Homo sapiens: one gene and its partner. The protein of the gene in region 1 purifies or fractionates together with the protein of each later gene. This does not show direct contact. Each region holds a gene or a part of one and is shown in the gene's direction. Other genes may lie near its edges. The genes, in order: GRTP1 and MINDY1.

What was found.
Region 2: the proteins of GRTP1 (region 1) and MINDY1 purify together in Homo sapiens (affinity purification with mass spectrometry; 2 studies listed by BioGRID and IntAct, with this or other methods). This does not show direct contact.

Annotation. Positions count from the first base shown.
Region 1 is NC_000013.11:113,347,066-113,354,330, reverse strand, and holds part of GRTP1 (growth hormone-regulated TBC protein 1), read left to right. Parts: intron 1-2,360; exon of another isoform or gene 2,361-2,658; intron 2,659-3,357; coding exon 3,358-3,482; intron 3,483-6,079; exon of another isoform or gene 6,080-6,152; coding exon of another isoform or gene 6,153-6,515; intron 6,516-7,265. Other genes in the region: MAGE-like protein 2, read left to right, coding at 6,153-6,515. UniProt on the Homo sapiens protein: May act as a GTPase-activating protein for Rab family protein(s).
Region 2 is NC_000001.11:151,003,759-151,011,561, reverse strand, and holds the start of MINDY1 (ubiquitin carboxyl-terminal hydrolase MINDY-1), read left to right. Parts: upstream 1-4,659; 5' UTR 4,660-5,250; intron 5,251-5,256; exon of another isoform or gene 5,257-5,406; coding exon of another isoform or gene 5,407-5,461; intron 5,462-7,803. Other genes in the region: exopolyphosphatase PRUNE1, read right to left, coding at 2,891-2,929. UniProt on the Homo sapiens protein: Hydrolase that can specifically remove 'Lys-48'-linked conjugated ubiquitin from proteins. Has exodeubiquitinase activity and has a preference for long polyubiquitin chains. May play a regulatory role at the level of protein turnover.

The DNA of each region.
Region 1 (7,265 bases):
GGGCTGAGCCAGTGGGGAGGGGGCTCCCAAGGCTGGGAGCTGGGGCTGCCAGGGGAGAGGCTGCATCCTGACCACAGAGTGATGGCCGCCAAAGGTCTCCAGTGCACAGCCTGGCGGCCAGAAACGCTGATTCAGGGTGGGAAGAGGAGAGCTTGGGTGCAGTGGGTGGGGGTGCATATTAAAACAGCACTGCTGTCTGAAAAATGCATTTAAAGTCTCTGTTTTGTGGTTTTTTGGATGAATTTTTTTATTTTTTATGACAGGTGTCAGTCTGTTACCCAGACTGGAGTGTAGTGGTGCGGTCACAGTGACAGCTCACTTCAGCCGTGACCTACCAGGCTCAAGCGATCCTCCTGCCTCAGCCTCCTGCGTAGCTGGAAGTGGTCTGAACCACAGGTGTGCACCACCACACCTGGCTCATTTTTTAATTTTTATTTTTTTGCAGAGATGGGGTTTTGGTCTTGAACTCCCGGGCTCTGAGGATTCGCCCTCCTTCACCTCCCAAAGTGCTAGGGTTACAGGAGTGAGCCACCCACCTGGCTGAATTGTTTTTTAAATTATGGTAAAATATGCCTAATATAAAATTTACCATTTCATTTTCCCAAGCTGAAGCTCTTGGGAGCTTCCCCATTGTTAAGCACTGAACCCCATGTCCTCACCCAGCCCCTGGCAATCCCGCTGTGCGCTTGTCTCTGTGCCATCCCCATTGTCAAGCACCGACCCCCGTGTCCTTGCCCAGCCCCTGGCAGTCCCACTGTACGCTTGTCTCCGTGCTTTGGCAACTCCAGGGTCACATAAGAGGAGTCCCGTGGGCTGCGTCCTCTGCAGCTGGGGTCCTTTCCCTCGCCTCAGTCCTCAGGGATCCTCTGTACTGCATCTTGTGTGACAATTTCCTCCTTCTTTAAGGGTGAATAATATTCCACGCATGGGCAGACTACATTTTGTTCATTTATCCATCTATCAGTGGACCCCTGGGCTCTCCTGCCGCACGGCTGTTATGGGTGGCATGGCCGTGAGCCTGGGTATGTGGATTCTGCTGGGTCCCTGCTTTCAGCTGTGGGTTCCTACCCAGAGTGTGGATTCTGCTGGGTCCCTGCTTTCAGCTGTGGGTTCCTACCCAGAGTGTGGGGCTGGGCCCCTGCTTTCAGCTGTGGGTTCCTACCCAGAGTGTGGGGCTGGGTCCCTGCTTTCAGCTGTGGGTTCCTACCCAGAGTGTGGGGCTGGGTCCCTGCTTTCAGCTGTGGGTTCCTACCCAGAGTGTGGGGCTGGGTCCCTGCTTTCAGCTGTGGGTTCCTACCCAGAGTGTGGGGCTGGGTCCCTGCTTTCAGCTGTGGGCTCCTACCTAGAGTGGACTCTGCTGGGTCCCTGCTTTCAGCTGTGGGCTCCTACCCAGAGTGTGGATTCTACTGGGTCCCTGCTTTCAGCTGTGGGCTCCTACCTAGAGTGTGGGGCTGCTGGATCCATGACAGTTCTGTGCTTAGTAATTGGAGCCACCTGGTCAGTTATCTTTCAGGAGCCATGCAGTGGATGGTCCAGTCCCACAGAGCCAATGCCAGGCCACGCAGTGCAGACAGAAAGCTCCCATGCTCTTCTGTCTCCACAATGGAGATGGAGCCATCTCCTTTCCCACAGGATGTTATCAAAACATATCAAGAAACTTAGTGTGGTGGCTCACGCCTGTAATCCCAGCACTTCGGGAAGCTGAGGCAGGCGGATTAGTTGAGCTCAGGAGTTCAAGACCAGCCTGGCCACCATGGCAAAACTCTGTCTTTACAAAACAATACGTAAATTAGCCCAGGCATGGTGGTGTGTGCCTGTAGTCTCAGCTACTCAGGAAGCTGAGGTGGGAGGATCGCTTGAGCCCTGGAGGTCGAGGATGCAGTGAGCCGTGATTGCACCTCTGCACTCCAGCCTGGGTGACAGAGTGAGACCCTGTGTTAAATATATATATAAATATATATATATATATAAAATATATATAAATATATATATAAAATATATATAAAAATATATATAAAATATATATAAAATATATATAAATATATATAAATATATATAAAAATATAAAAATATATAAATATATATAAATATATATATAAATATAGAAAACTCAATAAAAATATTACATATAAATGAACACAGCTGGTCACTCTAGTCTGAAATAGCAAAAATACTAACTTCCCCTTGACTGATTCCATTTTTTGGAATGTTTAGAATTCCAGAAAAAAAAAAAGGCTCTTTTGTAAGAAAACACACAATGAGAAATAATGTGCTCTGAGGCATTGAACTAATGTTGGCCCAAATCTAGTTTTTTGTAAGCAAAGATAAGGCCTGGGGCCAGAGGTCGGAAACAGACTTACAGTATTTTGCAGCCGTTGTGGAGAGACCACAGGCGGTTGGGTTCCTCCAGAGCTGGGTGTACACCCATCTCAGCGTCATGGCTGGCGGGGACTGCTGTGAGTCCATCTTGGAACTTGTGCAGAAAGCGGCTGTCTGCTGGTGACCGCATGGGGTGCCTGGCGAACACCTCTAACAGAGGTAGGGCCAGTGGGAGCAGAAACCAGTGGAGTTGTCAAGCCGGCATTATCCTTCCTGCTCGGCTTGTGTCCAGGGTTAACGCGGAGGTCAGCTTCAGTGAGGCCTGGCACTTGGTCAGCGTGAGGCTTGGTTAGTCTCAGGGACCCACGTGGTATCCGGGTCCCCCAGCACTAAACAGCTTGGCCAAGGCCACACTGTCCTGCCAAGAGATGCCTGGGCGGGACAGTGGGAGGGGTTGGTGCTGAGGAAGGAAGAGGCCGGCAGGGATGCCTCCTGCACACACAAGCTGACAACTCGAGGTTTATTCAGTTCTCAGCTCTCAGCTCTCAGCCGTGTCCTTTATCTCTGAGGAGTCTCAATTTATTCTGTCTCCTTCTGTTTTGGATCTTTGAAATTAGGAAAACACCTCAAAGTTTTGTGTGCATTTCTCTCCACCTGTCACCCTGGGTCCTCGAGGCAGAGTTGCCTCCGCTACGCGCGAGGTCCGAGGTGCAGGAGGCCTGTGCTGGGGGCCGGGAGGAGACGGGCATTGAGGAGGGAGTGCCATGGCCTGGCCACCAGCTCTGGGGTCGCTCTGCTGTCCCTGACTCTGCGGGAAGGACGGTTAGGGCCCCTCTCCGCCCCGAGTTCAGGATCACCCCCTCCTTCCTGGCCCAGTGAGCCTGTCGCTCTGGCTGTGTTGAGTCTGCTGTGCGGCCAGGGTGAAAACCAGTCCGTAAGTCCCAAGTGGAACCCAGGTGGCCACCCTCGGGGCAGCTGGAGGGGTGGGAGGCTTGTGGAACAGAAACCCGTGGGTGATTCCTTCTGAATTTCCCACAGACCTGAACCGGACCTTCCCCGACAACGTGAAGTTCCGGAAGACCACGGACCCCTGCTTACAGAGGACCCTGTACAATGTGCTGCTGGCATATGGGCACCATAACCAGGGAGTGGGCTACTGCCAGGTGAGCCTCGGGACCCTCTGACGCCATGAGGTGGCTGTGAGGACAGGTCTGTCCACAGCTGCAGGCTCGGCAGTGACGGCCTCACGTCTCTGTCAACCCTGTTCATGAATTCCACGTCCTGATGCCCCATTGAGGCTCGGACGCCATTTCCCAGCAGGGAGGACAGGGAGCAGCAGCCGACGACCTCATTCCGGCCTCAGGTGGCGGGAGGAGAATCAGCACGGGACACAGAGGGCGAGTGCTGTGGGGTGCGTGCGCTGTGGGGTGTGTGTGCTGTGGGATATGTGTGCTGTGGGGTGTGTGTGCTGTGGGGTGTGTGTGCTGTGGGGTGTGTATGCTGGAAGGCATGTGCACCATGGGGTGTGTGTATGGGATATGTGTGCTGTGGGTGCGTGCGCTGTGGGGTGCGTGCGCTGTGGGATGTGTGTGCTATGGGGTGCATGTGCTGTGAGGTGTGTGTCGTCCTCTGAGGCCACTCCCAGAGTGTCTGCTGTCTACACTGTCATCCCCTGGCTGGCTCCGTGGTGTGAACCAGCAGCTGCAGTTGGGAGAGTCCTTGCGCCTCCCGGAGGCCACCTAGCTGGGCGCATATTAAGGGCATTGCTGTTAGTAACTAGTGGAGTGAACAGGCCGGAATGCAGGGCAACCAGGAGCCGTGCAGTCTCCCAGCCTGTGTGTCCTGCCTGGGCCTGTCGCTGGTGGTGCTGTTCCAGTCTGTCTGAGCTCGCCGAGGGCAGGGCAGGCATCTGGGCAGGGCTGGCCTCCACGAGGGTTTCCAGGTGTGCGCACAGCCCGTGACTGCCTGTGAGTCCCCGTGGCTGAGAGCCTGGAGCCCACGGCTGCCACCGGGATTGGAGAGTGCGTTCCTGGCATTTTAGGCCATGTGCTTCACGGGCTCCTAGGGGTTGTGGCTGGCTTAAACGTTTCTAGGAGGACAGGGAAGGACATCGTCGCGATGGGTGGTTCGAACCTAGCAGTCCCAGTGATGCCCCCAGAAACTTCCTGTAGGAGCCGGGAGCCAGGCGTGCACCAACCAGAAAATGCAGTTTGAGTGAACGTTTGGAGGAGTGTGGAGCCCCTGCCTGGACAGCCCTGGGCCTGGCACCTGGCAGAGTGAATGCTCCCGAGGAGAAAGGGTGGACGTTGCGTGAGGAGCGCCCTGTGAAAGGCCAGCAGCAGAGCCACGGGACCACGCTGTCCTCACCAGCTGTTCCACGTGCTGTGCGTGTGTGGCTCTGTAGCTGGCTGGCAGTGCCGTGTCGGGTGAAGCTGGGAGAGTCCCTCCTTTGCAGACAGAATTCCTGCCATTCCTCACTTTTATGACTGTCCAGGAGCAAGAACGTGGCCTTCTGGAGTTGAGGTAGAATGGGCAAGAAATCCTCTACATCATTCTATTTACTGCTCCTTTGTGTTTTAAAAACAGCTTTATTAAAATGCATACACCAGCCTGGGCAAGGTGGCAAGACTCCATCTCTACAAAATATTTTTAAAAATTAGCGGGGTGTGGTGGCACACGCCTGTGGTCCCGGCTGCTCGAGGGGCTGAGGTGAGAGGGTCGTTTGGGTCTGGGAGGTCAAGCCTGCAGTGAGCCATGTTGGCACCACTACACTCCAGCCTGGGCAACAGAGCAAGACCCTGTCTGAAAAAAACCGAGAAACAAACAAAAAAAAACACCACCCACCTGGGTGGCCCTTGCCTATAATCATGCACTTTGGGAGGTCAAGGCAGGAGGATTGTTTGCTTGAGGCCAAGAGTTCAAGACCAGCCTGGGCAATAGAGCAAGACCCCATCTCTATTCTTAAAAAACAAGGCACAAACACAATGTTACATACTAACAGAATGCCAGAGCACAGCTGGCTTTTGGAACCTACAGGCACATACGTACATGTGTGTGCGGAGATGTGCACCTGTTAGCTTGCTGTGGGCCCCTAAGGAAATGCCACAGCCTGGTAAACAGTGGAAACGAATTCTCTCTCAGCTCTGGAAGCTGTGCATCAGAGGTCGCGGCATCTGCGGGGCAGGTGAGGTCGCGGCGTCTGCGGGGCGGGTTCTTTCTGAGGCTGTGACGGACGGACTGTCCCAGGCCTTGCCCTGGTTCTGCTGGTTCCTGGCAGTCCTGGGTGCCCCTCGGCGGGTGGCATCACTACTCCAATCTCTGCCTCCATCTCCATGTGCGTTCTCCTGTGCATGCCTGTGTCTAAAGCTCCACGTAAGACAAGGACACCAGGCTTGGATAGGGCCCACCAACTCCTCCATGACCCCATCCGTAATGACATCTGCAACAGTCTTTTTCCCAAACAAGGTCCCAATCTGAGGTACTAGGGGTTAGGACTTCAACAGATGAATTTTGGGGCGGGCAACACAGTTCAATGTGTGGCATATGTGTAGAGTTACACAGTGCACACGGTCTCGCTCTGTCACCCAGGCTGGAGTGCAGTGGCGTGATCTCGGCTCACTGCAGCCTCAACCTCCTTTGCTCAAGCGATTTTCCCACCTTGGCCTCCTGAGTAGCTGGGACCACAGGTGCGCCACCACGCTCGAGTAATTTTTGTATGTTTTGTAGAGATCGGGGTTTTGCCACATTGCCCAGGCTGGTCTTGAACTCCTGAGCTCAGGCGATCCTCCTGCCTCTACCTCTCACAGTGCTGGGATCCCCCACTGTGCCTGGCTATGTTCTGCTTTTTCTCCACGATGATCACCCACCTGCATTTCCATGTGTCCACACTGTCCACATGGTCGCCCTCTCCCAGGTCCAGTAGCACTGTCCACTCAAAGGGGTCCATTCTCAGCCACGGAGATCCTCCCGGGTCCACTCGGCCAGACAGGTCCTCCCAGGTCCGCTCAGCCACACAGGTCCTCCCAGGTCTGCTCTCGGCCACAGAGGTCCTCCCGGGTCCGCTCTCGGCCTCAGAGGTCCTCCCAGGTCCGTTCTTGGCCACAGAGGTCCTCCCGGGTCTGCTCTCGGCTTCAGAGGTCCTCCCGGATCTGTTCTTGGCCACAGAGGTCCTCCCGGGTCTGCTCTCTGCCACAGAGGTCCTCCCAGATCCGCTCAGCCACAGAGGTCCTCCCGGGTCTGCTCTCGGCTTCAGAGGTCCTCCCGGATCTGTTCTTGGCCACAGAGGTCCTCCCGGGTCTGCTCTCTGCCACAGAGGTCCTCCCGGGTCTGCTCTCTGCCACAGAGGTCCTCCCAGATCTGCTCAGCCACAGAGGTCCTCCCAGGTCCGCTCTCAGCCACAGAGGTCCTCCCGGGTCTGTTCTCAGCCACAGAGGTCCTCCTGGGTCTGCTCTCTGCCACAGAGGTCCTCCCGGATCCGCTCAGCCACAGAGGTGCTCCTGGGTCCGCTCTCGGCCACAGAGGTCCTCCCAGGTCTGCTCTCGGCCACAGAGATCCTCCTGGGTCTGCTCTCAGCCACAGAGGTCCTCCCGGGTCCACTGTCAGCCACAGAGGTCCTCCCGGGTCTGCTCTCGGCTTCAGAGGTCCTCCCGGATCTGTTCTTGGCCACAGAGGTCCTCCCGGGTCTGCTCTCTGCCACAGAGGTCCTCCCAGATCCGCTCAGCCACAGAGGTCCTCCCGGGTCTGCTCTCAGCCACAGAGGTCCTCCCAGGTCCGCTCTCAGCCACAGAGGTCCTCCTGGGTCTGCTCTCGGCCACAGAGGTCCTCCTGGGTCTGCTCTCTGCCACAGAGGTCCTCCCGGGTCTGCTCTCTGCCACAGAGGTCCTCCCGGGTCTGCTCTCTGCCACAGAGGTCCTCCCGGGTCTGCTCTCTGCCACAGAGGTCCTCCC
Region 2 (7,803 bases), on another chromosome or scaffold:
AACCCTCTCAGCAGAGAAAACAGGAACAATACTGATGCCAGGACTGCAAATTTCTAAGGAGAGCCAGCTCCTGATTCCTGCCTCATGCCTGAGAACTGCACACACTACATTATCCAAGGGGTCCTGGATGAACACCTAAACTGCAATGCAGCCCCACCCTGAAGCAAAGATTTCTCCCCTCAGAAGTGAAAGATGAGTCACCATAAATAGGACATTTGGTTAAATGATTTTTTTTTAATGGAACATCCTATTGTCTCTGTGGCAGAGGCTATAGAAAATTTCTGTGGTATCAAATACTAAAAATATGGTAGCAACGGGAGACTTGGCTGGATTACCAGCTGTCTTTATCCTGCACAAAGAGGAGCATTCATGATTTTCTGAAAGTTATAATTAAACTGTAGTTTAACAGAAACATTCAAACTTAAGAGTGTATCTGTCTAAATCACCTCTCTCTCTTTACACAAGAAACTTAACGGTGTCCTCTGGAGAACTGGATGGAGAGGAGAAAAGAAAAATGATCTTTATCTTTTTCATTTCATATCCCTTTGGTATTTAAATTTGTTCATGAAATACACATTTACTACTTCTATAATTTAAAGCAATCTAGGCTGGGTGTGGTGGCTCATGCCTATAATCCCAGCACTTTGGGAGACCAAGGCAGGCATATCACTTGAGGTCAGGAGTTCAAGACCAGCCTGTCCAACATGGTGACACCCTGTCTCTACTAAAAATACAAAACTTAGCCAGGCATAGTGGCGCACACTTGTAATCCCAGCTACTCAGGAGGCTGAGGCAGAAGAATCGCTTGAATTCGGGAAGTGGAGGTTGCAGTGAGCCTACTCCAGCCTGGGCGACAGAGTGAGTCTATCTCAAAAAAAAAAAAAAAAAAATTAAAGCAATTTAAATTGTTGGCATCTACCAGTATGTCTTGCCATCAGTTCCCCTGTTAACCTTCCTAGAGTCTAATTTTCTCATTTCTCCAGGCCCTGGAGAGGCTATGTGATGATGCAAGCTCTAAGACACAATCTCACCTTTCACAAGTTCACAAGTTTGAAAGGAAGATCTAGATCTTGCTCCTTGGGGGATGAATGCAGGGAGAGAAAGGTCGAGATGCCAGCAGTATTGGAAAAATCAAGTATTTTTCCAGCTTCATATTGCTGTAGAGAATATACTATTCGGGCTGGGTACAGTGGCTAACACCTGTAATTCCAACACCTTGGGAAGCCAAGCCAGGGGGATTGTTTGAGTCCAGGAGTTTGAAACCAGATTGGGCAGCATGGCGAGACCCTGTCTCTATAAAAATACAAAAAATTAGCCCTGCGTGGTGGCACTGCCTATAGTCGCAGCTTTTTCGGGAGGCTGAGGTGGGAGGATCACTTGAGCCGGGGAGGTGATCACACCATTGCACTCCAGCCAGGGCAACAGAGTGAGACCCTGGCTGAAAATAAATAAACAAATACAAAATAAAAATAGAGAATATACTACTAACCTGGGGGTCGGGGGAGGCTCTGGAGGATATATGCTGGAGAGTAGATGCATGCAAAGAAATACTATTTGGTGAGGTTTCAGGTCCAAGGGCACTTTACCAAATGGTGGAAGAGACCAGTCATTTGGGTTACTGGGGGGTAAAATCCAACTGTTTAGCACTTAGAACGGTGCCCCAAAAACTCTACATTAGTCCTCCAATAAGCGCCCTGTGGTGGACTCAGAGGTAACAAAAAGGGATTGGTTCCAAATGGCCTTATGCATTGAAATAACTCCCCAAATTTGTTTTTCACAAGGAAAATGTCTATGTAATTGGTGTTAAAATGGACCTTCTCCCCAATTCAATATGAAGACAATTCATTTATTCCAGCAGCTGAGTCTGCAGCAGGAATTAGTGACTTTCAGGATTTGTTAAAGACCAGAATCTGTCCCTCAGGGGAATTTGTAGAGTTTAAGATATCTAAAAAGGAAAGCTCAGCAAGCCATCTATCTAGGTTTCTTCAGGGCAGTATAACTCAAAGTAGAGGGGCCGGGTGACCTCCTGGAGCCTGTCTCTGGTTAGCTTTTTGCTGCTAACTGGGGATAACAGCCTAATGCCTCATGACGGCTCAGCATGGCTGGGTGAGTCCAACTGAGTCAGAGAGCACCAAAAATAAGCCACAAAGCATTGAGTAGTCATATTTATGGTTTTGATTCCAAACACACTTTGTGCTTATCCCTTCCAAGTGGAGAATTTTTATGTCATTTGTGTGCGTTAAGGCCAAAGGAGAAACCTGGAGGCAAAGGAATGCTGGTTGTGGGTCAACAAATATGCCTGATGGATTTTGTATGTTTGGCTTAAAAACACTGACTTAAAGTAAAATACTGTGACTACTTCTAACCTAGAAATGAGTTCAGCCCGCCAGACAGAAACTGCCATTCGGAGGAAATAAGGCCGTGAGCACCGGTTCCCTCCACACCCCCGAGGTTCACCTGGAGGCCAGTGGGCCAAGCGAAGCCTTGGGAGCGGAGAACTCAAAGAGGGGCGGGGAGAAAAGAATAAACACACCTCGCGGGGCTAGGCTGGCGGCGGCACAGTCCTGGTTTTTTTGATGGAACTGACCAAGATGACAGCAAGCAGAGGCTCAAATGCAGGATTCAGACCCAAGACTTCTCCCCGCTCTCAGGCGGACCCCAAAGGCGGGGAGCCAAAAACCGGGAGACTGAACAAGCAGCATTCTCACGCTCCTAAACTGGCTTCTCGCTCCTCGCTCCTCATGCCCCAAAACTGATCAGGCCCCAACCCCCCTCCCCACAACTCAGTGTTCCCTCCACACGGACCGTCGAGGCTCCCCCAGATCCCACGTCTTCGTCCTTCCTGGACCCCGTGCTCCATTCCTTACAGTCACAGACAGGGATTCGTTACCTGCAGAGCAGCTCGACAACCCTGCAGGTAGTCCTCCATGATGAAGCCCAAAGTACGCCGTCGCCCCTGGTCGAGTAGAGGTGCCCCTGGTCGAGGAGAGGTTTCCCCGACGAATGCAGCCCGCCCGGGACTCAGGGACTAGAGGCCAGAGTCAGGAGGCGGGACTCGAACCCGCCACACGGCGAATCGGCCTCCGACCCCGGGAGGAACTGCGTAAGCGGGCGCTCCGGAGTCCGGCGTCGCCCCGCCCCCAGCGGCGGAGGCGGGGCTCTACGCCCAGAGGCTCCTGGGACGTCTTTCCGGCGAGGCCAAGGGGGCGTGGCGTGGGGCGACGTGGGAAACGTAGTCCCGCAACTCCGCAATGTCCCTAGCAACCGAGGGAAGGATTGTTTTCTGAGGGATCAGTCGTTCGGTAAACAAATGTGTATGTGTCACAGTAACCCATTATTGTGGCATCTGAACTTTCCCTCTCAGATCAGGCCAAGTATAACATCTTTACATATATCACACCGAGCATCTGGTGACATTTTAAATGACACTTGGCAAAACAGATCATCTTCTTTCTACAAATTCTGCCCTTTACCAAACTGACTCAGTCGCCACCAATTTTGTGGTTGTTCATGTTAGGAGAACATTAGAATAATCTTTGACCCCTCTTGTTAACACCTACAGTCTCCTGCCAACTCCTGCTGCTTCTCCCTTTGCAACTCTGTAGCCTGTTTTTTTCTACAGCCTCGGCAAATATCTTCTTCCTTTCTTGGACGGTTGTAACCTTGGCTTTTTGCTCTCTGCCACCCTAATTGTTCCAATTGCTCTTTCAGCCTTTAGAGTTGCTTGAAATTTCATCCTGTGGCGGCCCTGTACATAGAGTTTAGGGAACCCTTCAGAATGTGGAGTTAGGTTCCAACCTCCCTTAACTGCCACTTTCCAGCCGCAGAGTAGTGCAGGTACTGCAAATAAATGGACACTCATCATCAAAAATTCCCTCATTTATTTATCTATCCCTTTATTTCCTACCGTCAGCCTCACACCAGCTTTTCCTGCTTCCCCAGCTGTAAATCGAGAGGAGGTGACTGATGAGAGGCCTGCAGTGGAACCAAGATCCAGAGCACAGGCGTGTTGGATCTCCTGCCTGCTCTGCCAGTTCTTTTCTTCTTCTTCTTCTTTTTGAGACGGAGTCTTGCTCCGTCTTCAGGCTGGAGTGCAGTGGCAGGATCTTGGCTCACTGCAACCTCCACCTCCCGGGTTCAAGCGATTCTCCTGCCTCAGCCTCCCGAGTAGCTGGGACTACAGGCATGTGCCACCATGCCCTGCTAATTTTTGTATTTTTAGTAGAGATGGGGTTTCACTATGTTGGCCAGGTTGGTCTTGATCTCTTGACCTTGTGATCCGCCCGCCTTGGCTTCCCAAAGTGCTGGGATTACAGGCGTCAGCCATCGCGCCCAGAGCCTGGGGCTTCTACCACACCCTCTGCACTCTACCAGGTGCACAACCCAACCAGTTTCATTTCTAGACTTAAAAATGATACAGCAAGGACTTGGAAAGGAGCTCTCTGGAGGGCTCCAGAGGGAAAAGAGCTGGGTTTGTTTGTTTGTTTTTAACATTAATTGAGTAATACATGCAAATATCGTGCTCTTTGCTCCTGCTTCTGTGGATCCAGAGCAAAGGACTGCCATACCCAGAGAGAGAGCCCAGATCCAACAAGCTGCTTCTGTCCAGCCCTTCTCCTCCCTACTTAGCAAGGGCACTTGCTCTTCCCTATTCTCACCAGAGAGGCACAAGCGCTCCGTCCCTTCTAGAGGCAGGCAGAGGGAAGAGAAAGGGTCTGTTGTTTTTCTCTCCTGTTTCTCGCTCCCTCTCTGCTGATCACAAAGCTGCTGACCGGGTCAGAAAGTCCTGATGGAAATCCACCAGCGCTGGGCAGGCCCCTCCTCCTCCAGGGAGCTTGTCCTTGCCTAATTTTTCTTCGTCCTGATGAGAACAAAAAAGAGAGAGAGAAGAAAAGAAAAACCACAAACTTCCTTTGAAAACCAGCTTGTAGTCAGGGCCCGGAGCGCATGCCATAGACTCGGCGACTCAGGAATCCTGAAGACTCTCTGAGCGACCTGGAGCACCTTGGCTGTGTCCCTGCCTGCCTTCACCCTCCTCCAGTGCCCCCAGTACTGGGCGTGAGTCCGGAAGTGGCCACAACCCAGCCTGGACCGTCGCTTATAAAGCTGTGTAAACCTGTATAAGCTCAGGCGTTGACAGCTGGAAGGCAGCTGGCACTGGCAGCCCCCTTCATTGCACCTATCTCCCCCATCTCATTGCCACGGCTGAACCCTCCTTCTCAATCTTGGAACAGCACCCCCTTCTTTAAGGTAAAAACTTTATTTTAATCATCTTCTTCACCTCTTCTCCCACCCTTCTCTATTTCCTCTCCAGCTTTGGGGAGCTGACACCTGCTGTCCTTCCACCTTTGGTCTGCAAGTCTGGATTGCTTAGAGGAGCTAAGTCAGGAGAGACATGTAAAGGGGATGCTGCTTGGTCCTCCTCCTTTTAATGAAAGCACGAAACCTTCCCCCTCTCCTTGTGAGCAAGTATACAGGGCACTGTGGCCATGGTTGACATATTCTGAGATGAAAATCTAAACTATTGATTGCACAAAGACATAGGTCAGACTAAGAAGGAGATTGGTGTGAGACAGTAAGGGAACTGTTCCTACAGAGAAGGAGTGTCTTCTTGAAGCTACATACCTGTTTTACGTGCTTCTTCCAACTTTCGGCTCTCTACTGCCATTGATTAGGGAGGAGCCAGGATTATTTTAACTCCCTCACTCACCACCATAATTCCAGCTGGAGAGAAAGTGTAGGATTTGACGAGCTAAGAAAGAGGAGGAAAAGAATGAAACTTTGATTTATCTGACTATCCTCTCCCTCATTCTTTCCTACTCTGAAATACTCCATGCCCTCCCCAGCAGGATTGGACGTTGTAGAGTAGAAAGCCTCCATTACATTTCCTGCCCCTGCCTCTTAAGACTTAGCCCATTTAGCTCTGCCCAGTTCCTCTGAGACCCCACTCCCTCAGGTGTCCACTCCTGGGTTCCTTTGGCTCACCTCTCCAGCCAGCTAGCTGCCCAACCCCCACTTCATCATTGATCATTTCTGGCACTGGAGAGAAAATATAAAAAATAAGGCCTGCTTTTCTTTTTTTTTTTTCTTTTTTTCTTTTTTTTTTTGGAGGCAAGAGTCTCACTCTTGTCACCCAGGCTGGAGTGCAGAGGCACAATCTTGGCTTACTGCAACCTCCACCTCCGGGGTTCAAGCAATTCTCCTGCCTCAGCCTCCTGAGTAGCTGGGATTACAGGTGCCCGCCACCGTGCCCGGCTAATTTTTGTATTTTTAGTAGAGATGGGGTTTCGCCATGTTAGCCAGGCCGATCTTGAGCTCCTGACCTCAGGTGATCCGCCCGCCTCGGCCTCTCAAAGTGCTGGGATACAGGTGTGAGGCACTGTGCCCGGCCAAGGCCTGCTTTTCTTCAAGCTTTTTCACTTTTCCAGGCTCTGGCATCTGCTTTGAGGTTCACCCTAAGTGTCATTTAAGGGGAGAAGGAAAGGAGAGAGAGAAAGAGAGAGAAAAAAAAGCATAAGGCCTGCAGGCAATTTTTGCTACTCTGATTCTAAATTAACAACACGTAAATGATATGCAGCTAGCATAAACATATGTGAATCAAGAGGATAATCAATTTGAGTGACTAGGCTTATTTTGTTTCAGTAACTTTAATGTTCCTCAACCTCATCTCCCAGGCCTTCCCCTAGCCCCAAATTCCTGTAGGTTTACAAGAAGGAAGCAGTCTCAGGCTGGGAGGAGGGTGGAGAAAAGACAAGATTTCTAACTAGTTTAATTTATTTTATTTTATTTTATTTTATTTTATTTTATTTTATTTTATTTTATTTTATTTTTGAGATGGAGTTTCGCTCTGTCACCCAGGCTGTAGTGCAGTGTCACCATCTCAGCTCACTGCAACCCCCTGCCTCCCAGGTTCAAGCAATTCTCCCACCTCAGCCTCCCGAGCAGCTGTGACTACAGGCACGTGCCAACACACCTGGCTAATTTTTGTACTTTCAATACAGACAGCGTTTTGCCATGTTAGCCAGGATGGTCTCGATCTCCTGACCTCAAGTAATCTGCCCGCCTCAGCCTCTCAAAGTGCTGGGATTACAGGCGTGAGCCACCGCGCCTGGCCCCTAACTAGTTTAATTTCTCCCTGTTTCTCTCCCTGATAAAGAGTGGGAGGGGAGCAAGGAGATTGAAGGGAGATGTTTTCCAAAGGGCAGGATTTGTGGTTTTTTATTATTTATACCCACAGTATTAGTTAAATGTCTATCTGTGCTTGCCTCAATGTGCCTCCAGTGCTGATAGAGAACAGGTTAAACAGGTCCGGTGTTCACATCTAAAATGACCTGGAGAGGACTGGGCACGGTGGCTCATGCCTGTAATCCCAGCACTTTGGGAGGCCAAGGTGGGAGGATCACCTGAGGTCGGAAGTTCAAGACCAGCCTGACCAACATGGAGAAACTCCATCTCTACTAAAAAATACAAAATTAGCTGGGCATGGTGTTGCATGCCTGTAATCCCAGCTACTCGGGAGGCTGAGGCAGGAGAATCACTTGAACCCAGGAGGCAGAGGTTGCAGTGAGCCGAGGTCGCACCATTGCACTCCAACCTAGGCAACAAGAGCAAAACTCTGTCTCAAAAAAATAAAAATAAATAAATAAAACCACTTGGATGGGAATAGACATAAAACTTTAGGTAGGTGAATGTACAGGAAGTATTGTTATGTAAATTAATAATCAGCATTTTCATATTTCATAGAAATAGCAGGCAAGAGAGTACCTCTGGGTTTAGGTAGTTTCTGGGGAAAAAAAATGAACT